Linked DNA regions of Homo sapiens. The protein of the gene in region 6 purifies or fractionates together with the protein of the main gene of each other region. This does not show direct contact. Each region holds a gene or a part of one and is shown on either strand. Other genes may lie near its edges. The genes, in order: GALT, CLUH, SYNGAP1, CHURC1, ARPC4-TTLL3, ARPC3 and LRCH2.

What was found.
Region 1: the proteins of ARPC3 (region 6) and GALT purify together in Homo sapiens (affinity purification with mass spectrometry; 3 studies listed by BioGRID and IntAct, with this or other methods). This does not show direct contact.
Region 2: the proteins of ARPC3 (region 6) and CLUH purify together in Homo sapiens (affinity purification with mass spectrometry; 3 studies listed by BioGRID and IntAct, with this or other methods). This does not show direct contact.
Region 3: the proteins of ARPC3 (region 6) and SYNGAP1 purify together in Homo sapiens (co-immunoprecipitation; one large-scale study listed by IntAct). This does not show direct contact.
Region 4: the proteins of ARPC3 (region 6) and CHURC1 purify together in Homo sapiens (affinity purification with mass spectrometry; 2 studies listed by BioGRID and IntAct, with this or other methods). This does not show direct contact.
Region 5: the proteins of ARPC3 (region 6) and ARPC4-TTLL3 purify together in Homo sapiens (affinity purification with mass spectrometry; 2 studies listed by BioGRID, with this or other methods). This does not show direct contact.
Region 7: the proteins of ARPC3 (region 6) and LRCH2 purify together in Homo sapiens (affinity purification with mass spectrometry; 3 studies listed by BioGRID and IntAct, with this or other methods). This does not show direct contact.

Annotation. Positions count from the first base shown.
Region 1 is NC_000009.12:34,645,206-34,649,474, reverse strand, and holds the start of GALT (galactose-1-phosphate uridylyltransferase), read right to left. Parts: upstream 2,801-4,269; 5' UTR 2,771-2,800; coding exon 2,689-2,770; intron 2,387-2,688; coding exon 2,217-2,386; intron 1,984-2,216; coding exon 1,908-1,983; intron 1,819-1,907; coding exon 1,770-1,818; intron 1,644-1,769; coding exon 1,514-1,643; intron 1,361-1,513; coding exon 1,304-1,360; intron 1,142-1,303; coding exon 1,019-1,141; intron 714-1,018; coding exon 581-713; intron 478-580; coding exon 394-477; intron 66-393; coding exon 1-65. UniProt on the Homo sapiens protein: Plays an important role in galactose metabolism.
Region 2 is NC_000017.11:2,698,265-2,701,764, reverse strand, and holds part of CLUH (clustered mitochondria protein homolog), read left to right. Parts: intron 1-27; coding exon 28-152; intron 153-244; coding exon 245-399; intron 400-499; coding exon 500-625; intron 626-939; coding exon 940-1,087; intron 1,088-1,290; coding exon 1,291-1,383; intron 1,384-3,174; coding exon 3,175-3,500. UniProt on the Homo sapiens protein: mRNA-binding protein involved in proper cytoplasmic distribution of mitochondria.
Region 3 is NC_000006.12:33,437,065-33,440,564, forward strand, and holds part of SYNGAP1 (ras/Rap GTPase-activating protein SynGAP), read left to right. Parts: intron 1-298; exon of another isoform or gene 299-417; intron 418-603; coding exon 604-1,227; intron 1,228-1,266; exon of another isoform or gene 1,267-1,354; coding exon 1,355-1,499; intron 1,500-1,710; coding exon 1,711-1,855; intron 1,856-3,500. UniProt on the Homo sapiens protein: Major constituent of the PSD essential for postsynaptic signaling. Inhibitory regulator of the Ras-cAMP pathway.
Region 4 is NC_000014.9:64,920,955-64,924,454, forward strand, and holds part of CHURC1 (protein Churchill), read left to right. Parts: intron 1-3,036; coding exon 3,037-3,172; intron 3,173-3,500. Other genes in the region: CHURC1-FNTB protein, read left to right, coding at 3,037-3,172. UniProt on the Homo sapiens protein: Transcriptional activator that mediates FGF signaling during neural development. Plays a role in the regulation of cell movement.
Region 5 is NC_000003.12:9,830,548-9,833,701, forward strand, and holds part of ARPC4-TTLL3 (ARPC4-TTLL3 fusion protein), read left to right. Parts: intron 1-2,556; coding exon of another isoform or gene 2,557-2,989; intron 2,990-3,154. Other genes in the region: tubulin monoglycylase TTLL3, read left to right, coding at 2,557-2,698.
Region 6 is NC_000012.12:110,434,323-110,437,330, reverse strand, and holds the end of ARPC3 (actin-related protein 2/3 complex subunit 3), read left to right. Parts: intron 1-178; coding exon 179-247; intron 248-647; coding exon 648-774; intron 775-1,126; coding exon 1,127-1,221; intron 1,222-2,113; coding exon 2,114-2,176; 3' UTR 2,177-2,508; downstream 2,509-3,008. UniProt on the Homo sapiens protein: Component of the Arp2/3 complex, a multiprotein complex that mediates actin polymerization upon stimulation by nucleation-promoting factor (NPF).
Region 7 is NC_000023.11:115,227,597-115,231,096, forward strand, and holds part of LRCH2 (leucine-rich repeat and calponin homology domain-containing protein 2), read right to left. Parts: intron 1-3,500. UniProt on the Homo sapiens protein: May play a role in the organization of the cytoskeleton.

The DNA.
Region 1 (4,269 bases), on a different chromosome or scaffold from region 6:
GTAGTAATGAGCGTGCAGCTGCCAATGGTTCCAGTTGGCCCCAGCCTCTGATCCTGTGGGAGCCCCTGACAGAAAGAAGAGAGACAGTGGGGAGAGAGAGCCCTTTTACAGTTATCCAGGTTAGCACCTACTCCCAAACCCAACCAGGTATCTGAAAACTACATCTCCCAGGATCCCCTGCTTGAGAAGAGCTGGCAGGAGATTAGAAAGCACATTGGAGATGTAGTTTCACCAAGTTTGCTGCTCCACCCTCAGTCCCAGCATCTCTACTCTGGCCACTTCCCCCAGCAACTGTTTCAAGGCTTGCTCCTTTGAGGTTGCAGTTCACTAGGCTGAGCCCCAGGAGCCCAGAAATGGTGTTGGGGCTAAATATAGGTACTTGAAAAGCCTCACCATGCCAGCCCATGGAGTAGGGAAAGGACGTCTCAAAGAGGTTGTCATACTTGGTCAAGAGCTTCTTCATGATGGAGGCTAGATCTGGAATCAGAGCCTGACTCTCAGCCTGGGGTCCAGATGCTGACCCTACTGGGAGCAACCTCCATCCAGTGCCTAGCCCCAGGATCCTACTTGGGAGACTGACCATCACGCTCAGCAGGGGTCAGCTCAGGTAGCCGCCGCACATGCCGACGGGGCAGCAGCAGTGTCTGGTAGGGCCATGTTGCCCAGAAGGGGACCAGTACTAACCAGTGCTCACTGGTTAGGACCAGACGTTCCTAGGAAGACAGAATGGATAGGAAGTCATCAAGGTGACATAGGAGCCGGAGTGTGGTCAGCAAATAGGCAAGGGAAGCAGAAGAAAAGAATGTGCCCAGGATCTGATGTCTTCTCACCACCTCTACCACTAACCACCCGAGTCTAAGTCACCATCATCTTTCCTTTAGATTACTGGATTATTGCTAAGGCCTCCTAGCAAGTCTCTCTCTACTAGTTCACCTCTAGCTTTCTCCTTTACACACCTCTCTCATGGGATAAGAAAGTTAGGGACTCCTTGGGGACACAGGGCTTGGCTCTCTCCCACCTTCCTGAGTAGCTCCTGGCGGCTGTACTCCATTAGCAGGGGCTCTCCATGCTGACTCTTATAGGCCTGCTGAGATCGCTCCTCACGCTGGGCAATATCTGGCAGGAAACTGCTGGCCCATACCTGTCAAGGGGCAAAAGCAGAGAAGAACAGGCAGGTCCTTTACCTCCAAGCCTCCACATCATTGGCATATTTCCTCTGTCCCATCCATTAATCCTGTTCCCATGTCCACAGTGCTGGCTCAGACTCAGCCAAGAAACCCACTGGAGCCCCTGACACCCTTACCTGGCAGTGGGGGTGGGGGTTAGAACAGCCCATCATGGCACCTTTGTTTTCAAAGATCTATCAGATAGGGATACGGAGCTCTGTTAGCCAAAAGACACCAAGTCAACTCCCTCCTGACCACACCCTGTGGAAACAGAAATGTTACTCCCCAGAACCAAAGCTTCATCACCCCCTCCCTGCCCATCCAGGGGAAGGGGCGACCTCACAAACCTGCACCCAAGGGTACTGGGCACCCAGCTCCTCTGTGACTGAGGCCCATGCATCAACAACAGCCCGGATCTCAGGGACCGACATGAGTGGCAGCGTTACATCCGACCAGGGGTGGAAGCACATGACCTTACTGGGTGGTGACGGGAGAAAAGATAACCGAGAGGTAGGGCTTGGCTGTGCTACGGGCAGGGCCGAACCCCAATGCTGAGTCTCCAACTCTGGTTTGAAAGTTGTAAGAGGGGAAATCCATAGTTACCAGACTCCTCGAGCAGACTTTGCTTGGAAAAGGGGATGATCACTGGGTCCTGAGGTAAAGGAGTATCACTCTCTGCAGCAGAAGTCCCTCAAGAGGTCTAGCCACCCTCCTCCCCAGCAGCAGTTGGAGCCAGGTTACCTGGACTGGGGGCATCAGGCTGCAGAGCTGGGAAGTCGTTGTCAAACAGGAAGGTGCTATCGTACTGGGGATTCACCTACCGACAAGGATAGGCTAGAAGCACTCACTGCCCCATACCACCAGTTACCTGGTGGGCTTCAAAGACTGGACAGGCTACAAGGGAGTAGGGAAGGCCCACCCTAGGGGACCAAAAAGCTTGGTGGGATATGACCCAGAAGGAGGTTCACTATCCCTGTGGGTGGAGGACAGTTCTAAGAGGGAACTACTCCCCGTGGCCCAGCCTGCAGATGCAGGGCTCTACAGGCTTACCTCTCCGTTGGCTCGGATGGCCCCAGGACACAGAGGGTTGAGAGGGTCATGGCGGGGCACTGTCTTCAGAAGCTGGGGCTCCACTTGACCCTGCCAGGGCCGCTTCATGCGGTGAGCTGACACCAGCACCCACTCATCCTGCAGCGGGTTGTAGCGGATATGCTGATGGTCTGGGGGCAGACAGTCAAGATCAGTCCTCAGAGCTCTCTAGCTCCCTCTCTCCTGGGTCTCACCCACCAGCAGGCCCAAGCTCGGGAGCGCCCTCTCGGCCCTGTCCCGCTCAGGAGCTAGAGGCCCAGGATTGGACTTTCCCAGCGCCAATTGGCCTGCTGCTCGTACAGGCCTGCAGACTGTACGCCTTGTCGGTCTGGCTCGGGATGAGCGTTCCAACCTTCGGAGGGGACGAAAGCTTCCTAAGGAAGGGGAGGGCTCGGCTCCGCGCCCCAGCGAGTCCCTGCCGCGGTGCAGTTACCGTTTGCCCGGAAGGTTGCTGCTGCGGCGTCCGCCTCTGACGCCTGCTGGCGTTGCTGAGGATCGGTTCCACTGCGCGACATGAGGCCACCGGGGGATCCGCTGGAAAATCTGCAGGGCCGTGCCTCACCTTTCACTTTCTCCGTCCACACCACCCCTCCCCGCGCCGCCCCCGATGATTGGCCAGCCGCCAGCACGTGACTGACTGACTGGGCTGCCCTGCCACCTGGGGGCGGGGCTCAGAACAGCTGTGAACCCTGGGGGCCGACATTGATGATCCTACTTCACCCAGAGCTAGAGCCACTACACTGGAAGAACCTCTGTGAAAGCTGCCTACTGCAGAATCCTTGGGCTCCAGGATGCCTACAGGACTTGCTTGCTGCAATCATTCATTTGATCTTTCATTCAGCAAATATTTACCAAGCATCTAGCATGTGCTAGGCACCTAGGCTGTGTAAAGCATTGGGATGCACATGTCAGGCATGGCCTCTGCCCTGCCTGAGCTTACATTCTAGGGCGAGTAAGGATATGACCCTGGATCAACAGCGCCTCAGTCACCTGCTCAGTGGCTGTAGCGCAGGAGAGGCAAACTTGGTGGGGTCTGTGTGGAGTACTTCACCATAACCATATCCTATCCCCAAAAGCAAAAACAGATTTGGGAAAAAGGGCTAAGTAACCATATTCTCTTTTTCTCTCACTCTTGCTCTCCTTCCTCTCTCTCTCTCTCTCTTTTTCATACACACACCAAGACAGCACAAGAAGTGGGAGGGGTAAAAGGGCTATAAAAAAAAATCTAAAAATGGCCGGGCTCGGTGGCTCACGCCTGTAATCCCAACACTTTGGGAGACCAAGGCAGGCGGATCACAAGGTCAAGAAATTGAGACCATCCTGGCCAACATGGTGAAACCCCGTCTCTAGTAAAAAAAAAAAAAAAAAAAATTAGCTGGTCTTGGTGGCGTGCACCTGTAGTCCCACCTACTCGGGAGGCTGAGGCAGGAGAATCACTTGAACCCAGGAGGCAGAGGTTGCAGTGAGCCGAGATTGTGCCCATGCACTCTAGCCTGGCGACAGAGCAGACTCCGTCACAAAAAAAAAAAAAAAAGTACAAGAAAGTCTAAAAATGTGGAGAGTACAGGACTATCAGAAGCTCCAGCCACCATCTAGGTGGGGCCTAGTGTTTCCTTTACACATCCCCTTCCCTTTTCTAAATTTTCCTTGGATGGGACCAATTGGCTAACACTAGGATAAAATTCAAATTAATTCCTCCCCTGGTACTTTTGTTTGTTTGTTTGTTTGAGAGAGAGTCTCACTCTGCCACCCAGGCTGGAGTGCAGTGGCGTGATCTTGGCTCACTGCAACCTCCACCTCCCAGGTTCAAGCGATTCTCCTGCCTCAGCCTCCAAGTAGCTGGAATTAGAGCTGTGTGCCACCACACTGGGCTAATTTATGTATTTTTAGTAGAGACGGGGTTTCACATGTTGGCCAGGCTGGTCTTGAACTCCTGACTTCAAGTGATCCTCCTGCCTCAGCCTCCCAAACAGCTGGCCCCCAGTACTTTTAAAGAGCCATCTAAATATTGTCT
Region 2 (3,500 bases), on a different chromosome or scaffold from region 6:
GCTGACCACCAGCCTCGGGTCCCTCAGACAGCGGGAAGCGGAAGAAGGGCTTGGAGATGGACCCCATCGACTGCACACCACCCGAGTACATCCTGCCAGGGAGCCGGGAGCGGCCACTGTGTCCCCTGCAGCCCCAAAACCGTGACTGGAAGGTAGGATCCTGGGGGAGGGAGGAAGAGGGTCCCTGGCGGGGTGGAGGCCCCACACCAGAGGCCTGGCCCCTCAGACTCGGCCGCTCCCGAAGCCCTTGCAGTGCCTGAAAGTACTCACCATGAGCGGATGGAACCCGCCCCCGGGGAACCGGAAGATGCACGGGGACCTCATGTACCTGTTTGTGATCACAGCCGAGGACCGGCAAGTCAGCATCACCGCGTCCACACGGGGCTTTTACCTGAATCAGTGAGTCCCTGCCAGCCCACCACACCCCCCTGCCGTGCCAGCCGTCCTGGGTCTGGGCAGACACCTGGGCCCCCGCTCAGTGCCCGCCCTCTCCCTGCAGGTCCACAGCTTATCACTTCAACCCCAAGCCCGCCAGCCCCCGCTTCCTAAGCCATTCCCTAGTGGAGCTGCTCAACCAGATCAGCCCGACCTTCAAGAAGAACTTCGCTGTGCTGCAGAAGAAAAGGTAGTGCCTTTGTCCCCTCCCGCCTTGTCTCATGGCACACGGGGGCATGGGGTGAGCCGGCCCACCTGCACTCCAGTGCTTCTGTCTGAAGAAACCGCCCTGGGCCCCCAGTGTTGGAGTCCCCGCTCTAGGGAGCTGTCGGCCAGTGCCGAGACAGCAGCCGCAGGAGAGGCGCCCGTGCACTTCCATCTGGCTCCAGGGCAGTGTCTCAGGGTGGGAGATGCCGGAGCAGGCGGGGGCCTCAGAAAAGGGGCCCGTGGAAGGGCTCTGAGCTTGGTGGGCTGCCCCATCTCCCCCTCCCCTGCCTGCCACAGGGTCCAGCGCCACCCGTTCGAGAGGATCGCCACCCCATTCCAGGTGTACAGCTGGACAGCCCCCCAGGCGGAGCATGCCATGGATTGCGTGCGTGCAGAGGACGCCTACACCTCGAGGCTGGGCTATGAGGAGCACATTCCTGGACAGGTGCCTGCAACCTGGCCCTGCCCTCGCTGGGCACCCCTGCCCTCCTGGGTGCTGGGCTGGTTCCGTGCACTTCCCTGGAGGCCCCATGCTTGACTTCATTTGGGAGTCTGGGGCTCTTCTCAGGAAGGTAGAAGGAGCGACTTCCGGGAGCAGGTCACAGGGCACAGGCTGAGCTCGTTTTTCCCTCCCTGATCTCTCTGCAGACCCGAGACTGGAATGAGGAGCTGCAGACGACGAGGGAGCTGCCTCGCAAGAACCTGCCTGAGCGGCTGCTCCGAGAAAGGGCCATATTCAAGGTGCCTGCAGCCTCTGCTGACCGGCAGTCTGAGGCCCGCTGTCCACCTGCTGACGGGTTTTCTCATGGAGAGGAGGAAAGCAAGGGAGGCAGGGGCAGCCCTAACCCTGTCAGGTTCCCCGAAGGCCAGTCAGCGTCTCCCGCAGGGTCTGCTAGCCTTCCGCCTCCCAGCAGACCATCCCAGTACCTTTCTCTGGCCTCTCTGAGGCTTTGAGTCCCTGGAAGGAGCGGGCCCTACTTCCCATAGGGACTGAGTGTCCAGGGCCGTGCAGCTTCCCGCCCTCTGTGACTGCTGCGGGGCTTTTGCCTGGGCGAGCACTGGCCGGCCATGGCCCTTCTAGGGCGGGTGCTCATTTGCATAACACTTTTAGTTTGCTGGGGTTTAAAAGTTATTAGTGCTGGGTTACTAAGAGAAATGAGGAAAAGCAGTTGCTTAAGAAAAAAAAAATCTCAGGCCGGCTTCAGTAGCTCATGCCTGTAATCCCAGCACTTTGGGAGGCCGAGGCGGGCGGATCACAAGGTCAGGAGTTCAAGACCAGCCTGGCCAATATGGGGAAACCCCATCTCCACTAAAAATACAAAAATTAGCTGGGTGTGGTGGCGCATGCCTGTAGTCCCAGCTACTCGGGAGTCTGAGACAGGAGAATTGCTTGAACCCAATAGGCGGAGGTTGCAGTGAGCCGAAATTGCATCACTGCACTCCAGCCTGGGCGACAGAACAAGACTACGTCTCAAAAAAAAAAAAAAGAAATCTCAGCCAGGCACAGTGGCTCACGCCTGTAATCCTAGCACTTTGGGAGGCTGAGACAGGCAGATCACTTGAGCCCAGGAGTTGGAAACCAGCCTACGAAACATGGTGAAACCTCGTCTCTGCAAAAAATACAAAAGATTAGCCAGGCATGGTGGCATGTGCCTGTAGTCCCAGCTACTCGGGAGGCTGGAGTGGGAGGATGGCCTGAGCCAGGGGAAGTCGAGGCTTCAGTGAGCTCGGATCTCGTGCCGCTGCATTCCAGCCTTGGCAACAGCGTGATACCCTGTCTGAAAACAACCAACCTCCCATAGTTATACTGCCTAGAGATGATAATTGTAGAAACAAAAACTCATTTCTCGGGTACCGACTTCACCAGAGATGGTGCCAAGTGCGTTATAGAGACTATTTCCTATAATATATTGGACAACTTGTAAAGGTCAATACCTTTATCTGTTCAAGTTCACCTGGCACATAACTGGTGGATCCCAAACCTGCGCACGCTTGTTAATCACTAAGCCCTGCTGTCTCCCTCAGCACAAGTGTATTCTCAAAACATGGGGGTTTTGGTTTGTTTGCGCTTTTTTAGAAATGGAGTCTCACTCTGTCCCCCAGGCTGGAGTGCAGTGGTGTGATTTCGGCTCACTGTAACCTCCACCTCCCGGGTTCAAGCAATTCTCCTGCCTCAGCCTGTCGGGTGGCTGGGACTACAGGCGCGCGCCACCTCGCCTGGCTGATTTTTTTTGTATTTTTATTAGAGATGGGGTTTCACCATATTGGTCAGGCTGGTCTCGAACTCGTGACCTCAAGTGGTCTGACCGCCTCGGCCCCTCAAAGTGCTGGGATTACAGGTGTGAGCCACCGCGCCCGGCCAAAACATGGTTTTCTTGCCCTTTTCTACATATGAGGAAACTGAGGCTCCGGGTCCTTGGGTTTCCAAGGCAGGCCCGGTTGCCTCCGCGGTCTAGGTGCGTGCGCTTGGCCAGGTGGATGCAGGCTCTTGTGGGCGCGGCCTCTAACCCTGCCCTCCTCGACCCCCGCCAGGTGCACAGCGACTTCACCGCGGCAGCCACCAGGGGCGCCATGGCCGTCATTGACGGCAACGTGATGGCCATCAACCCCAGCGAGGAGACCAAGATGCAGATGTTCATCTGGAACAACATCTTCTTCAGCCTGGGCTTCGACGTCCGAGACCACTACAAGGACTTCGGGGGGGACGTGGCGGCCTACGTGGCGCCCACCAACGACCTGAATGGCGTCCGCACGTACAACGCGGTGGACGTGGAGGGGCTGTACACGCTGGGCACGGTGGTGGTGGATTACCGCGGCTACCGGGTCACGGCCCAGTCCATCATCCCCGGCATCCTGGA
Region 3 (3,500 bases), on a different chromosome or scaffold from region 6:
GTATCTCTGTGTCTCCAAATCTCCCTCTCCATATAAAGACACCAGTTTTTATAAGGTGGGTTAAGGGTCCACTCTAATTCAGTATGGCCTCTTTTTTTTGAGATGGAATATCGCTCTTGTTTCCCAGGCTTGGAGTGCAATGGCATGAGCTCAGCTCACTGCAACCTCCGCCTTCCAGGTTCAAGTGATTCTCCTGCCTCAGCCTCCTGAGTAGCTGGGATTACAGGCACGTGCCACTATGCCCAGCTAATTTGTTTTTGTATTTTTATTAGAGACGGGGTTTCACTATGTTGGCCAGGCTGGCTCGAACTCCTGACCTCAGGCAATCCACCCACCTCGGCCTCCCAAAGTGCTGGGATTACAGGAATGAGATACCATGGCTGGCCTCTTCTTAGTTTGATTACATTTGCAGGGATCCTGTTTCCAAATAAGATCACATTCACAGGTTCAGGGTAGACATGAGTTTTGGTGGGATACTATTCAACCCAGTACACCGTCTCACCTTATGATTGCTGTCTGTATCCCACTTTCTTACTGTCTCTCCTCTTTTGGTGTCTCTCTGTCCCTTCCCCCTTTAACATCATGCCCACCCCACCATGCCAGGACAACAGCCGCCGGGTAGACAATGTGCTAAAGCTGTGGATCATAGAGGCCCGGGAGCTGCCCCCCAAGAAGCGGTACTACTGTGAGCTCTGCCTGGATGACATGCTGTATGCACGCACCACCTCCAAGCCCCGCTCTGCCTCTGGGGACACCGTCTTCTGGGGCGAGCACTTCGAGTTTAACAACCTGCCGGCTGTCCGTGCCCTGCGGCTGCATCTGTACCGTGACTCAGACAAAAAGCGCAAGAAGGACAAGGCAGGCTATGTCGGCCTGGTGACTGTGCCAGTGGCCACCCTGGCTGGGCGCCACTTCACAGAGCAGTGGTACCCTGTAACCCTGCCAACAGGCAGTGGGGGATCTGGGGGCATGGGTTCGGGAGGGGGAGGGGGCTCGGGGGGTGGCTCAGGGGGCAAGGGCAAAGGAGGTTGCCCGGCTGTGCGGCTGAAAGCACGTTACCAGACAATGAGCATCTTGCCCATGGAGCTATATAAAGAGTTTGCAGAGTATGTCACCAACCATTATCGGATGCTGTGTGCAGTCTTGGAGCCCGCCCTGAATGTCAAAGGCAAGGAGGAGGTTGCCAGTGCACTAGTTCACATCCTGCAGAGTACAGGCAAGGCCAAGGTGAGTGTTGTGCCCTCAGGGAAAGGTGACTTGGGAATGGGCACTTGCTTGGGGGTTAGTGAGGACAGGGCAAATTCACGAGATTGGGTTGTGCAGAGGCTGACACTTGGATTTTCCTGGGCCTCAGGACTTCCTTTCAGACATGGCCATGTCTGAGGTAGACCGGTTCATGGAACGGGAGCACCTCATATTCCGCGAGAACACGCTTGCCACTAAAGCCATAGAAGAGTATATGAGACTGATTGGTCAGAAATACCTCAAGGATGCCATTGGTATGGCCCACACTCAGGCCCTCTTCTTCCCAAACCTGCCAGATGTCCACCCCAGACCCCAAGTCCACCCTTCCACAGCTTGATACTTCCTAACCCAGAGTCCTAGGACTCCAGCCTCCAACACCTGATTCTGAAATTTCCCCAACCCTGGCCACCCCCTTCCCTGCCCTTGGAAAGTGTGACCACACCCTCTTGTGCCCCCACCCCCCAGGAGAATTCATCCGTGCTCTGTATGAATCTGAGGAAAACTGCGAGGTAGACCCTATCAAGTGCACAGCATCCAGTTTGGCAGAGCACCAGGCCAACCTGCGAATGTGCTGTGAGTTGGCCCTGTGCAAGGTGGTCAACTCCCACTGGTGAGACTGGGAACGCTGGGCTGGGGGGCCAGGGTCGGGGGAATTATGTGTTCATCTGTTCATCTATCTGTCCATCCTCAAAGAGGACTGAGCACCATTTATGGGCAAAGCATTGTTCTAGGCGCTATAGAGCAAACAGGTGAAAGAGGCCTGGTCCCTGCCCTCAGAGGGCCTCCACCAGAATGGGGACAAATTAGAAGAAAAAAAAAAAAAGCCACAGAGCCATAATGGTGTGTAAGTGCTGAGTAAGGGTCCCCCCAACCTCTGTGTGACATAAGGTCAGAGAGAAGGCAGAGCTTTGAGATAAGTGGGGAAGAGGTGCCCCCTTGGGTAGGCTTTGAAGACTGGTTTAGGTTCTGATATATGGACATAGTTGGCAAGAAAGACATTTCAGAAGAAGGCTGTGAGAAAGGCACATGTGTGATGGTGAAAAGGCCCAGGAGTTTTCAGGGGACATTAAAGTAGGTTAGTAGCAATTACATCAGGTTTAGTGGAGCATGTGCCTCATAATGGGGAGTGGCGGGAGAGATGTCTGGGCAGGAAGATTAGCTTTAGAAACTGGAAGGCCTCAAGGAGTCTGAGGTCATTGGTAGGCCTTGGGATGCCATTAAAGGTGTCAGAAATATTGTGATTTAGAAGATTAATCCATAGGCTGGGCACGGTGGCTCACACCTGTAATACCAGCACTTTGGGAGGCTGAGGCGGGCAGACCACCTGAGGTCAGGAGTTTGAGACCAGGCTGACCAACATGGAGAAACCCTGTCTCTACTAAAAATACAAAATTAGCCAGATGTGGTGGCACATGCCTGTAATCCCAGCTATTCGGGAGGCTAAGGCAGGAGAATCACTTGAATCTGGGAGGTGGAGGTTGTAGTGAGCCGAGATCACACGATTGCACTCTAGCCTGGGCAACAAGAGTGAAACTCCATCTCAAAAAAAAAAAATTAATCCATAAGTAGAGTGTATGTAGTAGAGTAGAGGGATGTATGTTGGGGGATGACTGGAATAGAGCCAGCTGGGGGCTCGGAGGCATGAAAGTCAGATCCTGAATCAGAACAGTGACAGAAGTTAGGAAGGAGCTACTGGAAGGACCCTCTCGGGAAAGGATCAGTAGGAATTGTCAGCTTATTGGAAAGGAGGGAGCATGTCTGTGGGGAGTCACGGATGACTCAAGAGGCCATGAGGCTGGTGGTTGGGAGACCGGTGGCCTCATTGACAACCAGGAAAGTCAGGAGGAGGAGCCAGTTGGAGGTGTGGGGGCGATGGTGAGCTCTGCTTTACACCAGCCGAGTTTAAGGTGTCAGTGGGACATTGAAGTGGAACTGGGAGGTGCGGGGAGTGAGCTCTGAGCCATTCCAGGGACTGGGGATCATGCCTGGGGCACCTCCATCCCCATTTCCCTGGAATCCAGAAGAGTTGGGGGGTCCGAGCTCCCTGTACCTCAAGTGACCCTCCATCTCTCTCCCATCTCTGTCTCTCCCTGGTGTCTGTTTTTCTTCTCCTCCTCTCCTTGTCTCTCTCCCACACCCCTCCATCTCTCTCCCACGTGTCTCTCCCCTCACCTTCTCTCCCCCTCCATTTCTCTCTCCCTAATCTGTCTGTTCCCTCTGCCATGGCCCCCTTCTTCAAGCAGCCTCCCATCTTG
Region 4 (3,500 bases), on a different chromosome or scaffold from region 6:
ACTAACTATAAAAACTATAGTAATCAAGAGAGTTTGATATTAGTGGGAAGGTAGATATATGTATCAAGGGAACAGAATAGTCAAAGCAGACCCACATATATATGGTCATTGACTTTTTTCTACAAAAGCACCATTGTAATTCAGTGGGGGGAAAGACAGTTCTTCAACAAATCTTGCCAAAACAACTGGAAATCCATACGCAACTAAATAAACCTTGATCCTTACCTCATATATAAAATTATTTCAAAATGGATTATAAACCTAAATCTACAAACTAAAAGCTATAAAACTTCTAGAAAAAAATGTAAGAAACTTTGTGCAACCCTGGGGTAGGCAGAGATGTCTTAGGAGAAAAAAAGTATAAATTATAAAAGAAAAAATGTTAAATTGGACTTTATGAAAATCAAAACTTGTTTGCTCATTAGAAGAAACCATCAAAAAAGGCAAATCAATGACGGAGAAAATATATTTGGGAAAAAACTTGTATCTAAGATATATAAAGAACTCTTACAACTCAAAATAAACAACCTAACTTTTTGAAAATGGGCAAAAGACTTGAATGGACATTTCATAAAAGAAGATACATGAATAAGCACCATGAAAAGATGCTCAACATCATTAGTCATCAAGGAAACAAAAGTTAAAACTACAATGAGATACCACTTTACGTCACTGAATGGCAAAAATAAAAAGCAGTACCTAGTATTGATGTAGCTATAGAGCAACTGGAACTCACACATTGCTGGCAGGAATGTAAATTGGAAAACCATTTGGCAGTTTCTTGTAAAGTTAAATATACCATATTTTTACCATATTAGCAATTCCACTTCTACATATTTACCCAAGGGAAAGGAAGACATGTATCCATCCAAGACTTGCACATGAATCTCTATAGCTGCTTTATTCATAATAGCCCCAAATGGAAACAACCCAAATATCTACCAACAGCTGAATCCTACAGGGAATACTATTTGGCAATGAAAAGCAACAAACTACCAGTACCTAGAACAACAGTGATGATGAACATAGGCATTATATCGAGCAAGGAAAATTGGATGCGGGAGTATACTGATTCTGTTTATATAAAATTCTAGAACGTGCAAGACTGGAGATGGAAATCAGATCAGTGGGTGTCTGGGGTGGGATGGAGGTTAGAGATAGACTGAAAAGCATGAAGGAACTTTTTGGGGTGGATAGAAATGTTTTATACCTTCACTAGGGTAGTGGTTACATGGGTATATACATTGGTTAAAAGTCATTCACCTATGTATACCCTTACAGTGTGTGAATTTTATTGTATGTAAATTGTACCTCAGTAGATTTTATTAAAAAAAAAATCAAAGGCTGGGCACAGTGGCTCATTCCTGTAATCCCAGCACTTTGGGAGGCCGAGACGGGCAGATCACGAGGTCAGGAGATCGAGACCATCCTGGCTAGCATAGTGAAACCCCATCTCTACTAAAAATACGAAAAATTAGCAGGGCGTGGTGGCGGGCACCTGTAGTCCCAGCTACTTGGGAAGCTGAAGCAGGAGAATGGCATGAACCTGGGAGGTGGAGCTTGCAGTGAGCCGAGAGTGTGCCACTGCACTTCAGCCTGGGTGACAGAGCGAGACTCCGTCTCAAAAAAAAAAAAAAAAAAAAAAAATCAAAGCAAAGCATTTGTTCTTAATAACTGGAAATGTATACTTTAATCCTAAGGCCCTTTTCCCTTTTAGTAGTTAAGGCAGTACACCTATGATTTAATAACTATGTAGTAATGTCTTGATTTCTCCCACTAGAATTAATGTCTTCCTCAATACATAGAAGGGAGAGATTCCTCAATATATAGAAGGGAGAGATTAATTCTCCCACCAGAATTAATCTCTTCCTCAATACATAGAAGGGAGAGATTAATTCTGGTGCTTGGAATCCAGAAAGACTTCCTAGTGGCATTATTTATGGTGGATCTTAATTTCGCTGATGCTTCTTAAAACTCCTTGAAGGTAGCAACATGTTTGGCTCATCTTTGAATCCTCTGTTGTGCTTTGCACAATATCAGACACAGATGCACTGGAGAAACGTTGATTTGAGTGATTTTTAATCACATTATTTAAAAATACTCTTTAAGTGTGTTGCTGAGAAATGGGATTGGACTAGATTATTTATAAAGTGACTTTTAATTATTAATTATTAGCCTTTAGCAAAGACTTCCTTTGGGTCGGGGACGGTGGCTCACAACTGTAATCCCAATACTTGGGAGGCTGAGGTGGGAAGATCATTTGAGCCCAGGAGTTTGAGACCAGCCTGGGCAACATAGCAAGACCCCATCTCAATTACCAAAAAAAAAAAAAAGGCTTCCTTTGAGCCAGGAGCATAAGTTATTTAGAATTTCTTTTTTAAAAACTTTTTTTGAAAATTTGTATAGTTTCTTAGTAAAGATGTAAAACCCATTCTCTCTTAAATGCCATTGTGTCAGTCTTACGAAATGAAGAACTTAAGCTTCTCTGCCTCAATCATGTGTATCCTTAAGGACTGACATCTATAGAGCTGAGAGTTTACTTTTGTTTATTTTGTATTATGATCAAGGATCAAAACTATTTGAACAAACAACTAAACATCTATGTAAGATCATCTTTATCATTGACTCAGTTTCTATTTTGATTGAATTTAATTTTAGTTGGTAAGCCTCGTTTAATATTGTTGGTTATTAAATTTTTCTAATTTTCTATTTTCATATTTTATATTAAGGTTTCCTTAAGTTGTTTCTAAATATCTATTTTCAGTTTATCCTCCCTTTTCAACATAGTGGCAGTCCTTACAGACTTAAGGATCTAACACTGCACTTTAGTTGCTTTTTTTTTTTTTTTTTTTTTAACATGAGTAACACTTCTTTAGGAAAGCTAGTAATTTCAAAAATTATTTGGTATATGACCTAGAAGTAAATGCTGGCCATTTTTTAGTTTTGTTTTGCCTTTAGACATTTTAAGTCTGTTAATCATCTTCACTAAAGATTTTGAAATGTAAAGAAATTAAATTCCTGTTTCTGATATTTTAGGGTAATACCTGCCTGGAGAATGGATCTTTCTTACTGAACTTTACAGGCTGTGCAGTGTGCAGTAAGCGGGATTTTATGCTGATCACAAACAAATCCTTGAAAGAAGAAGATGGAGAAGAAATAGTTACCTATGATCGTAAGTAGACTTTATTTTTTAACCTGAGTGTGTTAGCAGGTGTCAGCTTTTGGAAGTCGATATGTTACACAAAATATTCTGAGGCCTATTTCAATATTGTATTGCGCACATAATTACTAGTTAGGTCTTTAAGAGGAAAATGTCATTAACACCTCATTTATCTGGGATATCAAATAGTCTATGTAAATGACTTTTGCAGATAACTAAAGCTTACGATTCAGGAACTGAATTTTTTTTGTTTATCAAATTATTTTTCACGGACATATTTTTAAAAGCTTTATGCTGCCTTAACAAGATATACTTTTTATTATTGTTATTATTGTGACCT
Region 5 (3,154 bases), on a different chromosome or scaffold from region 6:
ATCATTTCTTAAATTAATATATTGGCGTTTTGGTTTCAAAAAATGTAAACGGGGAAATACATGGGCAGGAAAATATGAGCAAGCTGAGGGAAAAGGTGCCATTGTAGTGCAGTGCTCCCAATGCCAGTGCCCAGGCCAGAAGCATCTGAAAGCTTCTAAAGGTATGGATGTGAGGAGGCTCCACCCCCAGAGATTGACCCAAAATGTCTAGCTTGGGGAGGAGACTATGTATATCTGCATTTTTCAAATGCCCCCCAAATATCTTTTTTTTTTGAGACGGGGTCTTGCTCTGTTGCCTAGGCTGGAGTGCAGTGGCACCATCTCGGCTCACTGCAAGCTGCGCCTCCCGGGTTCAAGCGCTTTTCCTGCCTCCGCCCCCTGAGTAGCTGGGACTACAGGTGCCTGCCACCATGCCCGGCTAATTTTTTGTATTTTAGTAGAGATGGGGTTTCACCATGTTAGCCAGGATGGTCTCGATCTCCTGACCTCGTGATTTGCCCGCCTCGGCCTCCCAAAATGCTAGGATTACTGGCATGAGCCACCGCGCCAAGCCCTCTAAATGTCTTTTATTGCTGATTTGTTCTTGTTTTTGTTTTTAGGCCAGCACATAGTAAAGGCTTATACCTTGCACTGTTTTTTTTTGTCTCTTTTCATCTAGGCCAGCCCCAGTGCCTTTTGACCCCATAGTTTTGATCTTTTGAGGGGCCAGGCGGGTTGTTTTGTAGAACTGTCCCACATTCTGGATTTATCTGATTGTTTCCTTATGGTGTGATTTACCTTGGTCTTCTGTTAGCTGATTGTCTCAGGAACTAGAAGTTAGGTCAAATAGTTTGATGAGGTTAAACATTTTTCCCAAGAGCACTTCAGAGGTGATGCCGCGTACCTCATGTGGCATCACAAGGCACATCCTGTGAGAGTGTCTCACAGTTAGTGCTGCTGAGTTTGACTGTGGGTTACAGTGGTGGCTACCAGATTCTCTCCATTATAAGCTACATCTCCCCTTTGCAATTAATTTTTCTGTAAGGTGCTGTGTTGGCTCTGTCCAGATTACACATTTTCCTGTCATCCTTTCATCTAATTGTTTTGATACCAGTTTTGATTATTGCCTATTTTATTAGAGTTGCAAAATGGCAAATGTCTAATTCTGTTGTTCCTTCTGCATTTATTAGCTGAGATTCTTCTGTAAAGATGAACTTTCCCTCATCATCTGGGGCTACTTGGGAGTGCTGATAGCTACATTTTTATTTGATTTTTTTTTTTTTTTTTTTTTAGACAGAGTCTCACTCTGCCACCCAGGCTGGAGTGCAGTGGTGCTAGCTCGGCTCACTGCAACCTCCGCCTCCCGGATTCAAGTGATTCTCCTCAGATCCCGAGTAGCTGGGATTACAGGCGCCCACCATGGCCGGCTAATTTTTGTGTTTTTAGTAGAGATGGGGTTTCGCCATGTTGGCCAGGCTGGTCTCCAATTCCTGACCTCAGCTGATCCGCCTGTCTTGGCCTCCCAGAGAGCCACCGCGCCCGGCAATAGCTGCATTTTTTTTTTTTTTTTTTTTTTGAGACGGAGTTTCGCTCTTTTCACCCAGGCTGGAGTACAATGGTGCGATCTCGGCTCACTGCAACTTCTGTCTCCTGGGTTCAAGCAATTCTCCTGCCTCGACCTCCCGAGTAGCTGGGATTACAGGTGCCTGCCACCATGACCTGCTAATTTTTTTGTATTTTTAGTAGAGACAGGGTTTGGTTATGTTGGCCAGGCTGATCTCGAACTCTTGACCTCAAGTGATCTGCCAACCTTAGCCTCCCAAAGCTCTGGGATTACAGGTGTGACCACCATGCCCGGCCAATAGCTGTATTTTTAACAAGCTCCAAGTAATTCTGATGTTTAGATAGATTCTGATCAGGATCCTTCAGTGGCACAGAAGATACCTCCAACTGGCTCCAGGTTGCTAGCAAGGCACAGGGAGCTCTCCTGGAGCCCAGCTGAGGGCAGGACATACAGCTTGGCCTGATAGGAACTGAGAGTTGTAAGGGAGTCCCTCTCCTGGACCCTTCTCTCTGCCTTCCTCTGCATATTCGTTACTTCATTCTCTCCACAGACTGTCTTCTTTAAGGTTCTTAGTTTCTGCTACCCCATAACCTGGATTCACACGAGGCTCTAGGCAGGCTCCAAACCTCTTACTTGTCTGGGTGGCGTAACTCAAATTCTCTGTGCAGAGAATCTGATTGGCTCAGCTCAGGAAGCTGTCCACCAGCAGTGGCCTGTGCAGTGGAGCCACACGCATTCCAGCAGGGGCTGGGGGCAGCTTAGGAGGGAAATGTGGCTGAGGGGTGCTGGTGGGACATGGCTAGGATTCCCCCTTCCTCTGGGCTAGCAATTCCTGGAGCTCTGTGACTCTAGGTACTGACTCAGAGGTGGGCTTTCCATTTCTCAGCTCAGAAACGCCTCTTTGACCAGGTGCCTCAGAAAGTAATTCCACCCATCTCTACTCTGGGTCCCGCTGGGCCAAGGATTCCAGTACCACTGACTGAGTGGGCCTTGTCTCCTCTTCTTGCCCACAGCCTGCTGTGGAGGTGCCTCAATATGTGGGCATCCGGCTCCTGGTAGAGGGCTTCACCATCAAGAAGCCCATGGCGATGTGTCATCGGCGGATGGGGGTCCGCCCAGCAGTCCCTCTGCTGACCCAGCGAGGCTCTGGGGAAGGCAAGGACTCGGGGACCCCTACCCACAGGTCAGCTTCTAGGAAAGGCACTGGGGCCAGGAGCCTGGGGCACAGTGAGAAGCCAGTCTCCACTGCCACCACTTCAGCCCCCGGAAAGGGGAAGAAAGGCAAGGCGAAAAGGGCCACAGCCCTGGTCTGCCCCAATCTCTGGGAGTGGGATGCCCCCAGCACCAGGATGGGCTGCATTTTCACCATGACCTTTTCTAGTGGGGACAGGCAACCCCACCACTTGAACAGATTGCCACTGAGTCCGAAGAACCCCCGGGCCCTGGGTAAGACCATTCCCCCAAAACACCCGAGTGTTCCAAGGCGATTTATTCCTGCTCTCCAGGCCCCTCCCAACCACCTGGATCAGCCACCCCACCAAAGAGCCACCAGTAGCAAGTAAAAGCCACTACTCACAAAGTATTGTTTAAAAATACACAGCCAAATTAGCT
Region 6 (3,008 bases):
GCAGACGGAAAAGGAGACTGAGGAGACTGTGCATTTGGAGAATGGGAGTTTTGATGTGATAGTGGCTGTCCTACCACTGCATTCAGCAGATAATCAGAAGACAAAGATGGAATGCATACATTGCACATCATTGTTATGTTTTGATAACTGTTTTTAAGTCTTCTTTTTCTCCCTGTAGAATGAAGCTGATAGGACCTTGATATATATAACTCTCTACATTTCTGAATGTCTGAAGAAACTGCAAAAGGTAATTAAACTTGGATGATTGTATATCAGGAAAACAAATTGCTGAGAGGCATTTACCCTCCCAGTCATCTGGGATTTGTTGAGACTTTAAAGACAAGTAGAAAATATTTCCTCTGACTTACAGCATGGACTTAAGAGAAAAATTTGAATTTAGTTACCTGAACTTGTAGTATAATTGACTGACACAAAGATAAAAGTAGTGGTGTTTTAAGGCTTTGAATATATTTTCTCAAGACAGAAATCTTGACAGAGGAATTCCTTTTAAGCCCTTGACTCAAGGGTTCTTAACCTGGGGTCCAAGGATAGAATTCTTCTTTTCCCTGTAAAATATGTGTGTGTGTGTGTGTGTGTGTGTGTGTGTGTGTGTGTGTGTATATATATATATATATTTTTTTTTCCAGTGCAATTCCAAAAGCCAAGGTGAGAAAGAAATGTATACGCTGGGAATCACTAATTTTCCCATTCCTGGAGAGCCTGGTTTTCCACTTAACGCAATTTATGCCAAACCTGCAAACAAACAGGAAGATGGTAAGAACAGGTCTCTATCCTCACTCTGTGACACAAGAAGATTTTCTCCATTTGACTTCCTACCACCCCTCTTTTTCTTGCCTTGATTCATGTACAGATTGAGAGTGAAATCATAGGAAGTACATTATCTTATTAGTCACTCTCACAAACGATTCTTGGCAACAAGGATGACATGCAGAAAATCTTTTGAACAAAAACAAATATAGTTATAAAACTATCTGGACTGTCATTTCTATTTTGTATCCTGTTCAAATGTATAAAAATGTATTACCACAGTGAGCATCCAGAGCTGCAACCAGTACATTTGGGATGTATTTGCAAATACAGTTTTTTTTAAATTGTTCTGTTTTAGAAGTGATGAGAGCCTATTTACAACAGCTAAGGCAAGAGACTGGACTGAGACTTTGTGAGAAAGTTTTCGACCCTCAGAATGATAAACCCAGCAAGGTAAGACCCTCTTCTTGCCTGCTTAATTGGTAAATCACCTTTTATCCCATAGCCACCATTGAACACACTAAGGTCTTCCATTGCAAGAATATTTTTAATTTCTGCATTGCAATGTTGCTTAACTTCCAGTATATGTCTAGTATGTAATATGAGTTCACTGAATCACACTAAATAATGAATTGCAGGCCGGGCGCAGTGGCTCACGCCTGTAATCCCACCACTTTGGGAGGCCGAGGCGAGTGGATCACTTGCGGTCAGGAGTTCGAGACCAGCCTGGCCAACATGGTGAAACCCCCATCTCTACTGAAAATACAAAAAATTAGCCAGGCATGATGGTGTGCACCTGTCATCTCAGCTACTCAGGAGGCTGAGACAAGAGAGTCGCTTGAACCCAGGAAGTGGAGGTTGCAGTGAGCCAAGATCATGCCATTACACTCCAGCCTGAATGACAGAGTGAGACTTTGTCTAAAAAGGGTTTATGGCCAGGCGCGGTGGCTCACGCCTCTAATCCCAGCACTTTGGGAGGCCAAAGCAGGCGGATCATGAGGTCAGGAGATTGAGACCATCCTGGCTAACATGGTGAAACCCCGTCTCTACTAAAAAATACAAAAAATTAGCCAGGCGTGGTGGCAGGCGCCTGTAGTCCCAGCTACTGGGGAGGCTAAGGCAGGAGAATGGCATGAACCCAGGAGGCGGAGCTTGCAGTGAGCCAAGATCACACCACTGCACTCCAGCACTCCAGCCTGGGCGACAGAGCGAGACTCCGTCTCAAAAAAAAAAAAAAAAAGTTTATAAGAGATTCCAGACTAATGTGAAATTTTATTATTAAATAAATGCAAATTCTATTGTAATTTGACCCCGCTGTTCATTCTGTGTTGTTCTCTCTTGTTAGTGGTGGACTTGCTTTGTGAAGAGACAGTTCATGAACAAGAGTCTTTCAGGACCTGGACAGTGAAGGGAGCCCGGGCAGCCACCGTCTCCAGAGCCCTGGGCAGCATTTTCCAGCAAGATGTACACAATCTTTTGCCTTTATTTCGTAAAGTTTTATACAGAAGAGAGAAGAGCATGTCTTTACTTGAAAAACTCTTGATCAAGAATTTGGGTGGGAGAAAAGAAAGTGGGTTATCAAGGGTGATTTGAAATTTTCTGCAGCATTAAAGCTGGCGCTTAATAAGAATAAGTAATAATAAAGAAATTTCTAACATTCCATGTCAGAAAAACTTTATTGCCAGTCTTTGACATTCACTTACAATTTGTTTTGAGATAAAATTCACATTCCATAATGCCCTTTTAAAGTGTACAATTCACTTTTTTTAGTATATACATGAAGTTTTACAACCATCCCCAGTAAATCCAGAGCATTTTCATCACCCCGGTGTAGTGAACCTGCACTCTTTAGCAGCCACCCCACCCCACATTCCTCCCCAAGCCCCCTGTCCCTCCCACCCCTCCTCCCAGTATTAATCTACTTTCTGTCTCTATGGATTTGCTTATTCTGGATAATTCATGTAAATTGAATTTTTTATACAACATGTGGCCTTTTATGTCTAGCTTCTTTGACTTAATGTTTTCTAATTCATCCATGTTAGAGCATATATCAGTGCTTTCTTTTCTCTTTTTCTTTTTTTTCTCTCTGTGTATATGTATGAAATAAAATATACTAATATGGCCAGGCGCAGTGGATCACGCCTGTAATCCCAGCACTTTGGGAGGCCCAGGCGGGCAGATCACCTGAGGTCGGGAGTTTGAGACTAGCCTGACTAACACGGAGAAACCTGGTCTCTACT
Region 7 (3,500 bases), on a different chromosome or scaffold from region 6:
ATAGACATCCCCAACCAAGTAGCTCAAAATACTAAGGATTTACGTATTGCAATTATTTTTTTAAGAAGTGAAAAACTCTAGACTATACATACTAGATTCTCTTAGGAACATAATCATTAACAAAAAGCCATTTCTGAGTGAAATCCAAATTCACAAATGTTCTAGAATCAGTTCATCTCCATATGGTTCAAAGAAAAGTTTATGTCACAGTTATCTTATACCTGTCTCTTGTCACCTTGAATCTCTAATATTCTACTGAGACAAGTAATTAATCTAAAAATAAAGTGACAACATTCTCTGTCACAAATTAGAAAAGACTACACAGAATCAAGTGTTCCTGAAAAGGAAAGAACTTACTTTCCTATTTGGAAAAAACTTTTCCTCAAAGAATTTGATATAAAAAATACATTAGAAAATATCTACTGTTGAATTATCCATTACAGTCCATTGACAGGTATTCTGTTAATGGAATGCTATCTATTTACATGAAACAAGAGAAATGTAAAGATTAAACATTACAGTTTGACCTTTAGCAGATTGAGTGCACTAGCTGAAAGTGAGAGTAAACATAAACTTACATTGTTATTAAATTGGCTTATACAGTTTTCTTTAATTACATTAAATGGTTCCCTGGCGTGTAAGGTATTTTTTTTTCTGTAAATGAGAAGCAGACAACCCTTTCTGAAACTTTCCAGATAACTGATTATAAGAGTATTACAATGTTTTAAGAAGCACCCAAATACACTCAAAGTGTAGAGAAAAAAAGAAAACTAAAATATTTCCCTTTCTAGGTCATGATGATCACTAGCCTCTGCAGAATGGGGAGGTGTGTATCATGCAGTTAAGGCATCTCACAGAGTGGGCTGCTAGGCTGGGCTGGGAGAACAAGATGCCTCTTTTGCAAAGTTTCACTGTGTGCCTAGGAACTTAAACAAATGGCACCTCCCAGCAAATCAATTTTGTAAGTCTTCAATTATCTTTATTTGTAGTAAGTGTCCCTAGCATTACTTCTTATGTTCTCAGTGAGGTTCTGGATCTTGTCTACCTTCATGCCAAATAAATGCTTCAGAATTTATATCACAAATAATCTAAATTGAAATATTAAATTTAAACCTTAAGCAAAAGTATTCCACTAACCCCAATTTTAAAACATCCCAATCAACCACTTCTGTTCTTATACCTGTCATGCAACAAATACCTAACCTAACTTTTCAGGAAGCTTTCTCAAACTAAATTAATCCCCTCTAAAATTAAGCCTTATGCCACAGTTCCAGATCTCTTATGTGTACAGTATATTAAAATATATTATTTTGAATACTATTATATATTATAGTGAAATTCTTTTCTAATGGTTATATTACTGTATACATTTGACTATTGTATAAATCCTTTAAGTACAAAAACCATGTCTCTTTTTATTAGCCATAATCATGTTTCCAAAGTAGGAGTTCAATAAATGCTTGCTTAATGAATCTATTCTAAAACCATAAGAGAGGCATGATAGCTATGCAAATACACACAAAACAAAACACACCATACCACAAACAAAAAGTATATAACCTACGAAGTTAAATAAGCATTGAATTTTCAGAATAAATAACCTATTTATTGGCATGGTGTTTAATAACTGCTTTTTTATAAAGAGAGAATGTGTTACACTGGAAATAACATTAGGATAGCACTGGAGTTGAAAAACCTAGGCTCTGACCCACACACTCTGCCAGACTCACCATTTAACTTTGGACAAATCACTTAACCTGTCTCTCAACCACAACGAGCAATTACTATGTACTCTGCCAAGCTCACAGGGTTATTATTAGGATACAATAGGATAATATATATGAAAGTACTTAAAAATGTATAAAGAGCTGTATAAATGGTATTATCTTAATGATGAATGTACCCTTCAATTAAAGATAACATTTTATTTTAAATGAAAGAAATTAAGGGATAAGTATGCTGTAGAACTTATCACTGAATAAATCAGTACAAGGTTCAGTAATTCAGATTCAATCTATAGCAATTAAAATATGAGTCAACTGTCAAAAATGTGCTTCACATTCGATTTTTCAGGAAGACATTTATTAAATGAAGCAAGGCAGATATTTGAATAAGGCCACAAAATCACAATCATGAGCTCATTCCACTAAATGCACTGAGAGGACCTTCACCTCACAAAATCAAATGCTGTGTTTATCTGGCTCCATTTTACAACCTGATACAATGCACCATGCCCTACAGTTGAAAAGGTGAACCAGCACATGTAGGAAATACTAGAGTTGACTCCTGGTTTACAGGAAAACACGTGATTATCCAGGACACGGCAGAATCTGATGTAAGAATTCCTAAATCTGTTTCACAGACCTACTGCTCATGTACATAAACAGGTATAAAGAAGCAGAGGGAGCAGCAGCAAGTACGCTGAAACATATCCACTTATTTGTAGCACTGGTGACAGAGTCAACTATGCAAGGTTTCAGGATTTGTTTGGGTAACAATTAAATTCACTTTCAAGTCAACAAATTATCATAGTATCCAGATGGACCAAAAAGTTCTATGCAATTTCCCTTCATCTTGTCAAATCTATCTACAGACCATCTCGGAGAAGACATTACAGCAAGAGTCAGCTACTTTACTGAAATGGGTTACCAACTTTCTGATCACTGTTTTATGTCCTTATGTGGGTGAAAATTTTAATCAAGGAGTATCTGGAAGGGAGATCTACTCAAAAAGGTCATGAATCTCCAATCACCAATTGGAGATTCAAGTAAATTAGCAAACTCCCCCTTTTAAATGTTAATCTCCTAGAGAGGCTGCCATAATCATTTACCTGAGCTCTATCCCAATAAAGTAAGAGGAGTGAGGTTGAAGAGAGAAAGAGAAAGGAGAAAAGTGTGATGGGGACAAAGGGAGGAGGCAAGTGAAGAACAGACACTAGAAATGCAGAGAGAGGTAAAAAGACACCAAAGATAAACTCTGCAAACAGCTGCCTAAAATACATTTTCCCTCATAGGAAGCCTGTTAGCAGAGAAAAGATTTTGCTGCTACATGTTTAGGGGGCATCATTTTCTTCACGTAAATTTATCAAACAATTTGAAACAATTTTTGAGTATTTAGTTCCTAGTTTTGGTTTTGACTTTCTTGACAAGTGGCTTTAAGGTTAATAACTAAACTTTTATCAATGTTCTTATTCACTCAAAGAACAAATATTTCTTGAGTGCTTAAAAAATAAACAATTTTAGGGTTTCTCAGCCCTGAGTGCATATTAGAATTACCTGGGAAGATTTTTTTTCCTTAAGTTCCTTGGCCCCTGAGATTCTGATTTAATTGGTCTAGGGTGGGATCCAGGCAGGGTTGAAAAAACAAACAAAAAATCTCCCTTGCAATTGTAATGTGCAGCCAGGGTGGAGAACCAGGGGTCTATTTCATCTTAATGTAAAAAAACCTTCCCCCATTTATTTTGAAATGTATTAATTTCTCCTTATTCAATATTGTTTCAC